2 separate regions of the Homo sapiens genome follow, and region 1 is linked to region 2. Evidence: fine-mapped QTL for protein levels in blood plasma. A gene starts in region 2. The other region holds a variant in brackets. All regions are shown on one strand. Distances are between the middles of the regions.

Region 1 (5,000 bases), 59 kb after region 2:
ATAAAAAGTTTCTCTCATGGGTCATCAAAGGAAGAAAAGCTAATGGTATAAGCAGGTGGGTGGACTGGGAGAGCTTGGCATGCTTGGCAGAGCCACATATGAGCTCCGAGGAGACGAACTCCTAAGGATGTTCAACTGGCCATGTGATCTACCTGAGTGACTGGGAACGGAGTCCAAGCTTGGGTCCAGAGAGGGAGGGAAGGGGAGCCCATGCCCCAATCTGAGCCCCATTCCTCTTCCCAGGATCCGCTTCAGCAGAGAACAGCCTGGGCCATCAGCCAGCTGGCCACCAGGAGGTACCAGGCCAGCTGCAGGCAGGCCCGGGGTGAGTGGCCAGACTCAGGGAGCAGCTGCAGCTCAGCCCCTGTGTGTGCCATCTGTCTGGAGGAGTTCTCTGAGGGGCAGGTAAGGCAGGTCTTGTGGTTCACCTCCATGACCAGACTGGGGAGATTGAAGCTGGGGGAGGGGTGGGCAGGCCTAGGGGCTGGTATGGGTACCCTGGCTACATCTGTTTCCCATGTGTCCTGCATGAGGCAGAGATCAGGGACCAGCCTGAAGTTTGGTCACTTTTCTGACCTTCCAGTGAAAGAGCACTATTGTTTGTTGAGAGTGTACCACGTGCCAGGCTGCAGTGGTGCTTTGGATGCATTATCTCATTTTAGACCCATGGCAATGAAGGGTGGGGTTAGATTCATTTTTTTATCTTCATTTTACAGCAGAAAACTGTCTGTTAAGAAAGTTGCCCAACGTCATGCAGCTAAGTGCAAAATCCAGGTCTATGTGATGCCAAAGCTCATACCATTCCTATTCTACTGTGAGGTCTTTTACAAGTAGATAATAGCAAGGAGAGGCCTAAGGGAGTTGGGGGATGTCCTGATTCCTGGCAATTCCTATGGCTACAGAAGCCTTTGGTTTGGACCCCCTCTTTTTCTCCAGGAGCTACGGGTCATTTCCTGCCTCCATGAGTTCCATCGTAACTGTGTGGACCCCTGGTTACATCAGCATCGGACTTGCCCCCTCTGCATGTTCAACATCACAGGTAGGAGGTGGGCCAAGGACTCCCCTCTGTGTAGGCAGACAGGTCTAGAATGTGGCTTCCCTTTGGGAAAGGGTTGCAGCCTTGAAGCTGGGGAGAAAGCAGAACTGCCACCATAGTTGTATGGGCTGTACACTGCTCCAGAGTGCCTCACTCGAGGGGAAGCGTCATTCAAAATGTAAATATCTTTATTTATTTATTTTTTAATTTTAATTTTTATTTTTTGAGACGGAGTTTCACTCTCATTGCCCAGGCTGGAGTGCAATGGCGTGATCTCGGTTCACCGCAACCTCCTCCTCCTGGGTTCAAGCGATTCTCCTGCCTCAGCCTCCCGAGTAGCTGAGATTACAGGCATGCGCCACCATGCCTGGCTAATTTTGTATTTTTAGTAGAGACGGGGTTTCTCCATGTTGGTCAGGCTGGTCTCAAACTGCTGACCTCAGGTGATCTGCCTACCTTGGCCTCCCAAAGTGCTGGGATTACAGGCGTGAGCCACCGTGCCTGGCATGTAGATATCTTTATTATTATTATTATTATTATTATTTTTTGAGTTGGAGTCTCGCTCTGTCGCCCAGGCTGGAGTGCAGTGGCGCGATCTTGGCTCACTGCAAGCTCCGCCTCCCAGGTTCACGCCATTCTCCTGCCTCAGCCTCCGGAGTAGCTGGGACTATAGGCGCCCGCCACCATGCCCAGCTAATTTTTTTTTTTTTTGGACTTTTAGTAGAGACAGGGTTTCACCATGTTAGCCAGGATGGTCTCGATCTCCTGACCTTGTGACCCGCCCGCCTTGTCCTCCCAAGTGCTGGGATTACAGGCATGAGCCACCGCGCCCGGCCGTAGATAATCTTTATTATTGTAAAAATTATTTGTATTTCATGGCAAGTTTGTTGATTCTAAATCTGGGTGATTTATATGTTTATTATTCCAATTTTCTGGCAATAAAATATTCTATTCTAACAAAATCAGTATGTTAACATAATTTTCTAAAAGATGAAAGTGAAATAAATATCTTGAGGAAAGAGAACCTTTTTCTAAGGTACCCACAGGTGCCCTATGGGCTAACAGTGGCCCTGGGTGAAAGAGCTCCAAATGGCTGAGGGGAGGTTTAGGGATTGACACGCATAGTGGCCCTCCCAGGGCAGGCAACCTGACTGGAGGGAACAAAGGAGTCCCAGAGCACAGGCAGCTTAGGCACGTCCTTGATCCCCCAAACTCTGAGCTCACAGGCTACTCAGGGTCAAATAGATTAGCTACAGCCATGTCTTTCTGAATGCATTCTCTGTAGGTTTGTAGAGTTAAACATCTGTGCTCTTGGTTCTTTTTTCCAGAGGGAGATTCATTTTCCCAGTCCCTGGGACCCTCTCGATCTTACCAAGAACCAGGTCGAAGACTCCACCTCATTC[G/A]CCAGCATCCCGGCCATGCCCACTACCACCTCCCTGCTGCCTACCTGTTGGGCCCTTCCCGGAGTGCAGTGGCTCGGCCCCCACGACCTGGTCCCTTCCTGCCATCCCAGGAGCCAGGCATGGGCCCTCGGCATCACCGCTTCCCCAGAGCTGCACATCCCCGGGCTCCAGGAGAGCAGCAGCGCCTGGCAGGAGCCCAGCACCCCTATGCACAAGGCTGGGGACTGAGCCACCTCCAATCCACCTCACAGCACCCTGCTGCTTGCCCAGTGCCCCTACGCCGGGCCAGGCCCCCTGACAGCAGTGGATCTGGAGAAAGCTATTGCACAGAACGCAGTGGGTACCTGGCAGATGGGCCAGCCAGTGACTCCAGCTCAGGGCCCTGTCATGGCTCTTCCAGTGACTCTGTGGTCAACTGCACGGACATCAGCCTACAGGGGGTCCATGGCAGCAGTTCTACTTTCTGCAGCTCCCTAAGCAGTGACTTTGACCCCCTAGTGTACTGCAGCCCTAAAGGGGATCCCCAGCGAGTGGACATGCAGCCTAGTGTGACCTCTCGGCCTCGTTCCTTGGACTCGGTGGTGCCCACAGGGGAAACCCAGGTTTCCAGCCATGTCCACTACCACCGCCACCGGCACCACCACTACAAAAAGCGGTTCCAGTGGCATGGCAGGAAGCCTGGCCCAGAAACCGGAGTCCCCCAGTCCAGGCCTCCTATTCCTCGGACACAGCCCCAGCCAGAGCCACCTTCTCCTGATCAGCAAGTCACCAGATCCAACTCAGCAGCCCCTTCGGGGCGGCTCTCTAACCCACAGTGCCCCAGGGCCCTCCCTGAGCCAGCCCCTGGCCCAGTTGACGCCTCCAGCATCTGCCCCAGTACCAGCAGTCTGTTCAACTTGCAAAAATCCAGCCTCTCTGCCCGACACCCACAGAGGAAAAGGCGGGGGGGTCCCTCCGAGCCCACCCCTGGCTCTCGGCCCCAGGATGCAACTGTGCACCCAGCTTGCCAGATTTTTCCCCATTACACCCCCAGTGTGGCATATCCTTGGTCCCCAGAGGCACACCCCTTGATCTGTGGACCTCCAGGCCTGGACAAGAGGCTGCTACCAGAAACCCCAGGCCCCTGTTACTCAAATTCACAGCCAGTGTGGTTGTGCCTGACTCCTCGCCAGCCCCTGGAACCACATCCACCTGGGGAGGGGCCTTCTGAATGGAGTTCTGACACCGCAGAGGGCAGGCCATGCCCTTATCCGCACTGCCAGGTGCTGTCGGCCCAGCCTGGTGAGTTTTCAGAGGGAAGTGGGTGTGGTAGGGAGAGGAGACTACAGCTGAATATTTCAGGACAGGTGAAGTCAGCCAACAAAGGGTTGATGGAAGCTGAGAAGGATACAGCAGAGATGACAACCAAAATACTTAACCATCGGGACAGCGTATCATGCTGGCTAGAGTGCAGGAACACCCCACCTCTGCCAGGTGCTACCCCTTTAGTTGGCAGATCACAGGGAGGTCCCAGGGAGGTGCTGGTGTGGCTGAGGCATCAGAAAGGCACTTGGAAGGCCGGGTGTGATGGCTCATGCCTGTAATCCCAGAACTTTGGGAGGCCTAGGTGGGTGGATCCCTTGAGGCCAGGAGTTCAAGACCAACCTGGCCAACATGGTGAAACCCTATCTCTACTAAAAATACAAAAATTAGCCGGGTATGGTGGCGGGCACTTATAATCCCAGCTACTCAGGAGGCTGAGGCAGGAGAATCGCGTGAACCTAAGAGGCGGAAGTTGCAGTGAGCCAAGATGGCGCCACTGCACTCCAGCCTGGGTAACAGGGTGAGACTCCATCTCAAAAAAAAAAAAAAAAAAAAAAAAAGAGGCATTTGGAATGGTCCCCGGGGTAGTAGCTCAAACATAAGTGTTTCTAAATTTTAATAACTGGTTTAGTTCTACCAATGCTCACAGCTCAGTATTAGTTCTAAATACAAAGAAGGCTAAGAAGTGTTCCTCGGGGGGAGCTATAGTAGAAATAATTACACATAACCATAATACGAGGCTATATAAGAAGAGCTATGTGAACAACGAGAAAAAAGAGAGAGAGAGAAACCACAGGTGGTTCCCAGCAGCCCTGTGGAGCCTTAGGTTTTCTTCTCTTCCCCTGTGGTAAAAGAACAAGGAGGACTTCCCTTCAACACATCATTATTAATAAGACTGACCTTAATTTCTTGGGGATTCAGTGCATCCCTATATCATAAGCAGTGATCACGTAAATTCTCAACTTTAACATGGTGTTTACTTGCCCACATATCTCTCTTTTCCATTCAGGACCTTCCACCTTCTACTCTTCCCCATCTTCCCCCATTGTATGGATGACACAGTTCTTTGTCTACAGCCATCACTAGAACCCTTCCAACCCAGGAGGTGACACAAAGGTCCTGAAATATTCTTCAGTGTAGGAATTCTTCCTGCAGGACCTAGGAGCTGCCCTCATCCAATTCATTCATTTATTCATTTCCTTTCTCCTTCCTTCCTTTTTTTCCTTCTGACTATATGCCTGCTTTGTGCTAGGTTCCAG
Region 2 (5,489 bases):
TCAGAGTATGTGAAGAGGAGACCCAATTTCCAAATGAAGGAACTTTGCTTTTTCTCTGTCATGTTGAAGAGCTAATATACTGTGTAGATTTTCCCCTAAATATGGCTTTCTTAGCTTTATAGATGTTGAGATAATATCTTTTGAGGAACACATGTCAAGCAGGAACCTTGGCATAGATTTGGTTTCAGTTGTTTTAAGGCTTAATTAATGAAATGCCTTAATCAGCTTTCCAAACATTTTTATATATGAATACAGCAGACCAAGGAGCTGGATCTCCTGCTATCCTTACACGCCTTGTATCTATCAACTAAAGCTGTCATTAATGACTTGGGCAAAATGGCAAGAGGTATAATAAAGTCTTCCTGTGAATTAGCCAGTAGGGTCTGACACAACTAGTCAACTAACAAGGTTCCTGACTAGTACCTCAGTATTTCAGCACCTTAAGCACTGATAAATTTCAATCAGTCAACAATAAAGTGAGTGTTCCAACTAGACTTGTTGTCTTGCTTGTTCTTACTGTTTGGTGATTAATAGAAAATTCAATAATTATGACAGTTAATAGTATAATTCAAATGAGATTTACTTTATTTTTCAAATAATCTGAATTTTAAAAGTTTTTTTTCATTTGTACTTGAATAGCAATGGAATTTTTTAAATGCCGTTAGGGATAAGGACAATTCTTAGACATGTTTTACAGAAACCTACATTTTTGGAAAAGGATGAATGATCTTTGATAAATTTAATCAATCCAGAGGTGAAAGTAGATCCTGAAGGATGATCTATCTCATGTATAAGACTAGCTAGTAGATGTCATTGAGACTTAGGCATTTCATTACAATAGTGATGGCATCTTTATGACATCTCTAGGAAAATGTAGTAGTATATCAACCCTAGAGGGTAACTCCAAAACTTTGAAGCTGAAGAATAATTGCTCTTGCAATTCTGGTGATCTAAAACAGTGAACTAAGCTACATAGAGCTGTTTGGTTTGATCTTGAGTTTCTCCAAGTCTCCAGGTTCATGATGCATATCATCATCATTTCCAAATCTCAGAGTTTCCTCAAGAGAGGGCAACCACATTTGTAACTGTCTTCTTTCTGTCAATTAAGTGTGTGTATTAATTACTAGGGCTAGGTCTTTTCATTCCTTTGCACGTTTTAAGCAGGAATAGATGAGGCAAAGCCCATTTGTAGGTTATTTTTTAGTTTAACTATGTTAAATTAAACTATGTTGGTCAGGCTGGTCTCAAATTCCCGACCTCGTGATCCACCCACCTTGGTCAACCAAAGTGCTGGGATTATAGGCGTGAGTCACCACGCCTGGCCCAACAAAAATTTTTTTTAAATTTGCAGGGTGTTGGCCAGGCGCAGTGGCTCACGCCTGTAATCCCAGCACTTTGGGAGACCGAGGCGGGTGGATCACAAGGTCAGGAGATGGAGACCATCCTGGCTAACACGGTGAAACCCCGTCTCTACTAAAAATACAAAAAATTAGCTGGGCGTGGTGGCGGGCGCCTGTAATCCCAGCTACTCGGGAGGCTGAGGCAGGAGAATGGCATGAACCGGGAGGCGGAGCTTGCAGTGAGCCGAGATAGCGCCACTGCACTCCAGCCTGGGCAACAGAGCGGGACTCCGTCTCAAAAAAAAAAAAAAAAAAATTTGCAGGGTGTGGTGGGACGCACCTGTGATCCCAGCTACTCTGGAGGCTGAGGTGGGAGGCCATGAAGGTCAAGGCTGCAGTGAGCCATGATGGCACAACTGTGCTCCAGCGTGGGTAACACAAGACCCTGTCTCAAACAACAAAAATAAACAAAAAATTTATTTTCGAATTTGTCTTTGATCTAGGTTAGTTATTAGATCTGAAATTCTGAAACTACTGTCATAAACCTTATCTACAGGGGAAACAATGTTGAAGGTCAATAGGCTACTCATCCTTTTTGCTTTCAGAGGCATTATGTCATTTAATCTTTACAACAGACCTATCGTAATTATTATCATCAGCATTTTACAGATGATCAGAGATTCGTTTTTACATGAGGTAAGAAACACATAAAATTTACTATCATAACCATTTTTAAGTGTACAGTTCACTAGATTTAACTATATCCACATTGTTGTTCATTTGTATAATTTTGAAAGTTTATGGCAGCGGTTCAGAAATAAAATGTCTCACCACAGTCAAATATAATCTGGTAATTTGAAACTTCAAATGTTATAAATGTATTAGAAACTGTTGTATTATTTCTAATGGCAGGGTAGTAATAAGGATTATAGTTCATGAATGTGGTAATTAGCCAGAAATTCATTTTCTTTTTGCCTATGTTCTTCTCATTAATCATATTTTACCCTTTGGCTTGTATTTATGACATGGACTTATTTGGAGTCTTACATTGAAGGCATAGGTCTGATCCATAGTATTATTTCACCTCCCAAAGATTGAAAAGAAAATAACAGTTGGATTCCAGACATCTGACATCAACCTGATTTGAAAGTTCCATATAGGCACAGTTTAGACAGAGCTACTGAATTTAAATTAGTAAGAGCTGAAGAAAAGCTAAGCATAAAATGGACAGAGCCCTTCCCAGGGTAGCAGACATAAGCAGCAATAAATCAGTAAGTACTAAAACACAGGATCACTTTATTCTGGCTTTCTGCCATTTATAGACACTCAAACTTGGAATGAGCAGAAATCCTTTTGAACTTATATTTGCAAAACCTTGTGTCCATTCTTTTATCTTCCGGATTACCTTTATTTTTTTCTGTTTATTTCCTCATACCATCATCTATGCTCTGTTGGGTGCAGAGTCTGCTTAGATATCTTTGAGTGGCCCTGATTTGCATGTGGTAGCTTGCTTACCCAGAGAAAGGTACTCGGGATCGAATTGGATGCAGTTTAGCTGTGGCTCAGTAGAGGGAGTAGAGGAGCTGAGGGAGGGGGGAGAGCGAAAGAACGGGTCTGGTTAAGTAAGTGTTGTGTGTGAGCACCAGGAGGAGGGGGGCAGGGTGGGGAGTGGTTGCCTCTAGCAGCTCCACCCTCACTTTGTCAGCAGGTAGAGAGCGTGATTGCAGTCCCAGGGGAGGGAGTCAGAGCTAGAACACCAATTACAAACCACAGGCTTCCTGCTCTAGGGAGTTGATCCAGAATTGTCTTTCTGAAAGGAAGCACTCGGAATCCTTCCGAACTTTCCAAGTCCATCCATGATTCAGAGATACTGCCTTCTCTCTCTCTGGGATTTTATGTGTTTCTGATAGTGAATTGTTGATGTATTTGCTACTTTGCTTCTTTTCTCTTTCAAGACTTGATCATTTTATATGCTGTTTGGAGAAAAAAAGAACTTTTGTTAGCAAGGAGGTTTCAGAAATGATTTTGGATTTTCTGTAAGTGTTTAATTTAGTTCTAGGGGACAGCATCTCTCATCCCGGAGTAAATTTCTGCCTTTGACCTGCATGGATTATTTTTTCAGGCTGCGGAATTTCTCGGCACCTACCTGTAGTATGGGGCACTTGGTTTGGTTGCAGAGTAAGAAGGTGGAAGAATGAGCTGTACTTGGTTAAGCAGTTGAAACCTTTTTTGAGCAGGATCTGTAAAAGCATAATTGAATTTGTTTCACCCCCGTGGATTCCAGTGGGCCCGACAGCGCAACAGGTTTGCAGATTTCTTTTGAAATTCCTTTTTCCCCCCTCCCTCTGCCTCAGCAAAAGAAAAGAATCCATATAACAGGTTCATGTTCAATTGCTTGGCTTTTCAGCACTTATTCTGAAGACTTTATAATATTTTTAAACTTGACCTTGGAACACAGAGGGCTTTGTGGGTGAGGTGTATTTATATTTACTTAAGGGTGCACATTTTAAAAATCTTATTCTGTGTTTGTACAAAGACGCAAATTTTCATAGTGCCTAGAAATAGCACAGATCTATTCTACTCAAGATTATTTGTATTTTTTCAGGGTATTCTACCTAGAGCCTGTGGTTAATCGCCTCCCTGCTCCCCCTACCTTTTATTCCCTACCCCCTCAGGGAATTTGGATACATGTGAGGAATAGTCCTTTGTTTTTCTTATGAACCTAGAAAATTACAGATCATAAAATCTGGATATTAAAGTAGTTTCCAAAAGCATCTCATGGGAAATCAAAGTGCTCGGCATTTCCGAGCTGGAGAATAAAATCAAGAATCCTTAAGAGAGAAAAGAAAATGGAGATGGAAATATGAATTTTAACTGGGAAAAATAATTGGAAAGCTAACCTTTTCAAATACTCTAATTATGAAAGTTGGAAAAGGTTGTGATGCTCAGGATTATCCTGTAATGTGTGAAGATACATAAATTAGCACCTAATTTATAGGCAAATTTTGGTAAAACACAAAAAATTATGGTATGTCTAAGTTCATGAAAAGTATGTAAATGCAGTGGGCCTAGAAACCTGGCCACACTGAAATACAGTTTAATGTGGAAACTTTTCTAAATACATATTGTAGCATCTTTGGACATCAACGTGTGGCCTGAAATTTTTATTATTGTTCCCTCTTCTCCTCCATTAAAAAAAAAATCTCCTTGTGGTATTTAGTCATTTACCATTAACACATATTATGGCTTAAAAAGGGCCATCCCTTCCTTTTCTGAGCTGGAGTTCTTCACGCTCACCTTTGATGCATGGCCTTAGCTGTTTACTTTGCCTTGTTTTGTTCATGAACATTGGGTTTAGTGCCTGGCAACTTGATGCATATGGAAGAGCAATGCCAAGTGATCTGACATAATACAAATTCACGAAGTGACATTCAATCACAAGCAAAGTTGGAAATTCCAAAGAGAAGTGGTGAGATCTTTACTAGTCACAGTGAAGATGGGAGAAAATGACATACCTGCAGCAGATGTGGGCTGAAAATATCCTCTTCTCTGCCCAATCAGGAATGCTACCTGTTTTTGGGAATAAACTTTAGAGAAAGGAAGGGCCAAAACTACGACTTGGCTTTCTGAAACGGAAGCATAAATGTTCTTTTCCTCCATTTGTCTGGATCTGAGAACCTGCATTTGGTATTAGCTAGTGGAAGCAGTATGTATGGTTGAAGTGCATTGCTGCAGCTGGTAGCATGAGTGGTGGCCACCAGCTGCAGCTGGCTGCCCTCTGGCCCTGGCTGCTGATGGCTACCCTGCAGGCAGGCTTTGGACGCACAGGACTGGTACTGGCAGCAGCGGTGGAGTCTGAAAGATCAGCAGAACAGAAAGCTATTATCAGAGTGATCCCCTTGAAAATGGACCCCACAGGAAAACTGAATCTCACTTTGGAAGGTGTGTTTGCTGGTGTTGCTGAAATAACTCCAGCAGAAGGAAAATTAATGCAGGCAAGTATAACTTTATTATATTTCACTTTCCATCTGTTTGAAATATGTCTTTCTTCTTTTGTCTCCCAAATGAAATACCATACACGGGCTTCTACTGCTTAGCTTTCTATTTCATAGAAAGAGTAGATACTGCCTTATTGGCATTCTAAATTTA

Direction of the effects. Positions count from the first base shown, and alleles are read on the strand shown. Strength reflects both the effect of a copy and how common the allele is.
For the plasma level of the protein whose gene starts at base 3,127 in region 2, A is the high allele of the variant in region 1 and G is the other (moderate association).

The links. PIP is the posterior inclusion probability: the model's chance that the variant is causal. The UK Biobank Pharma Proteomics Project read protein levels with antibody pairs (Olink). The fine-mapping took linkage between variants from a reference panel, not from the people measured, so its PIPs are less certain.
Region 1: its variant is fine-mapped to the plasma level of the RNF43 protein (UK Biobank, PIP above 0.99). The variant lies in the coding sequence of RNF43. If it changes the protein, the assay may bind it differently, which can mimic a change of level.

The regions. Positions count from the first base shown.
Region 1 is chr17:58,356,188-58,361,187 of GRCh38, reverse strand. It overlaps RNF43 (ring finger protein 43), which reads left to right. Exons shown (of 10, transcript NM_017763.6): 7 at 244-405; 8 at 937-1,039; 9 at 2,365-3,720. Among named protein-coding and RNA genes, the nearest start is that of SUPT4H1, 6.5 kb to the right of the region's middle. The variant G/A (reference allele first, on the strand shown) is at 2,440.
Region 2 is chr17:58,415,172-58,420,660 of GRCh38, reverse strand. It overlaps RNF43 (ring finger protein 43), which reads left to right and starts at 3,127. Exons shown (of 10, transcript NM_017763.6): 1 at 3,127-3,644; 2 at 4,699-5,335. The coding sequence starts at 5,084. HSF5 (heat shock transcription factor 5) reads left to right here. Exons shown (of 6, transcript NM_001080439.3): 6 at 1-494.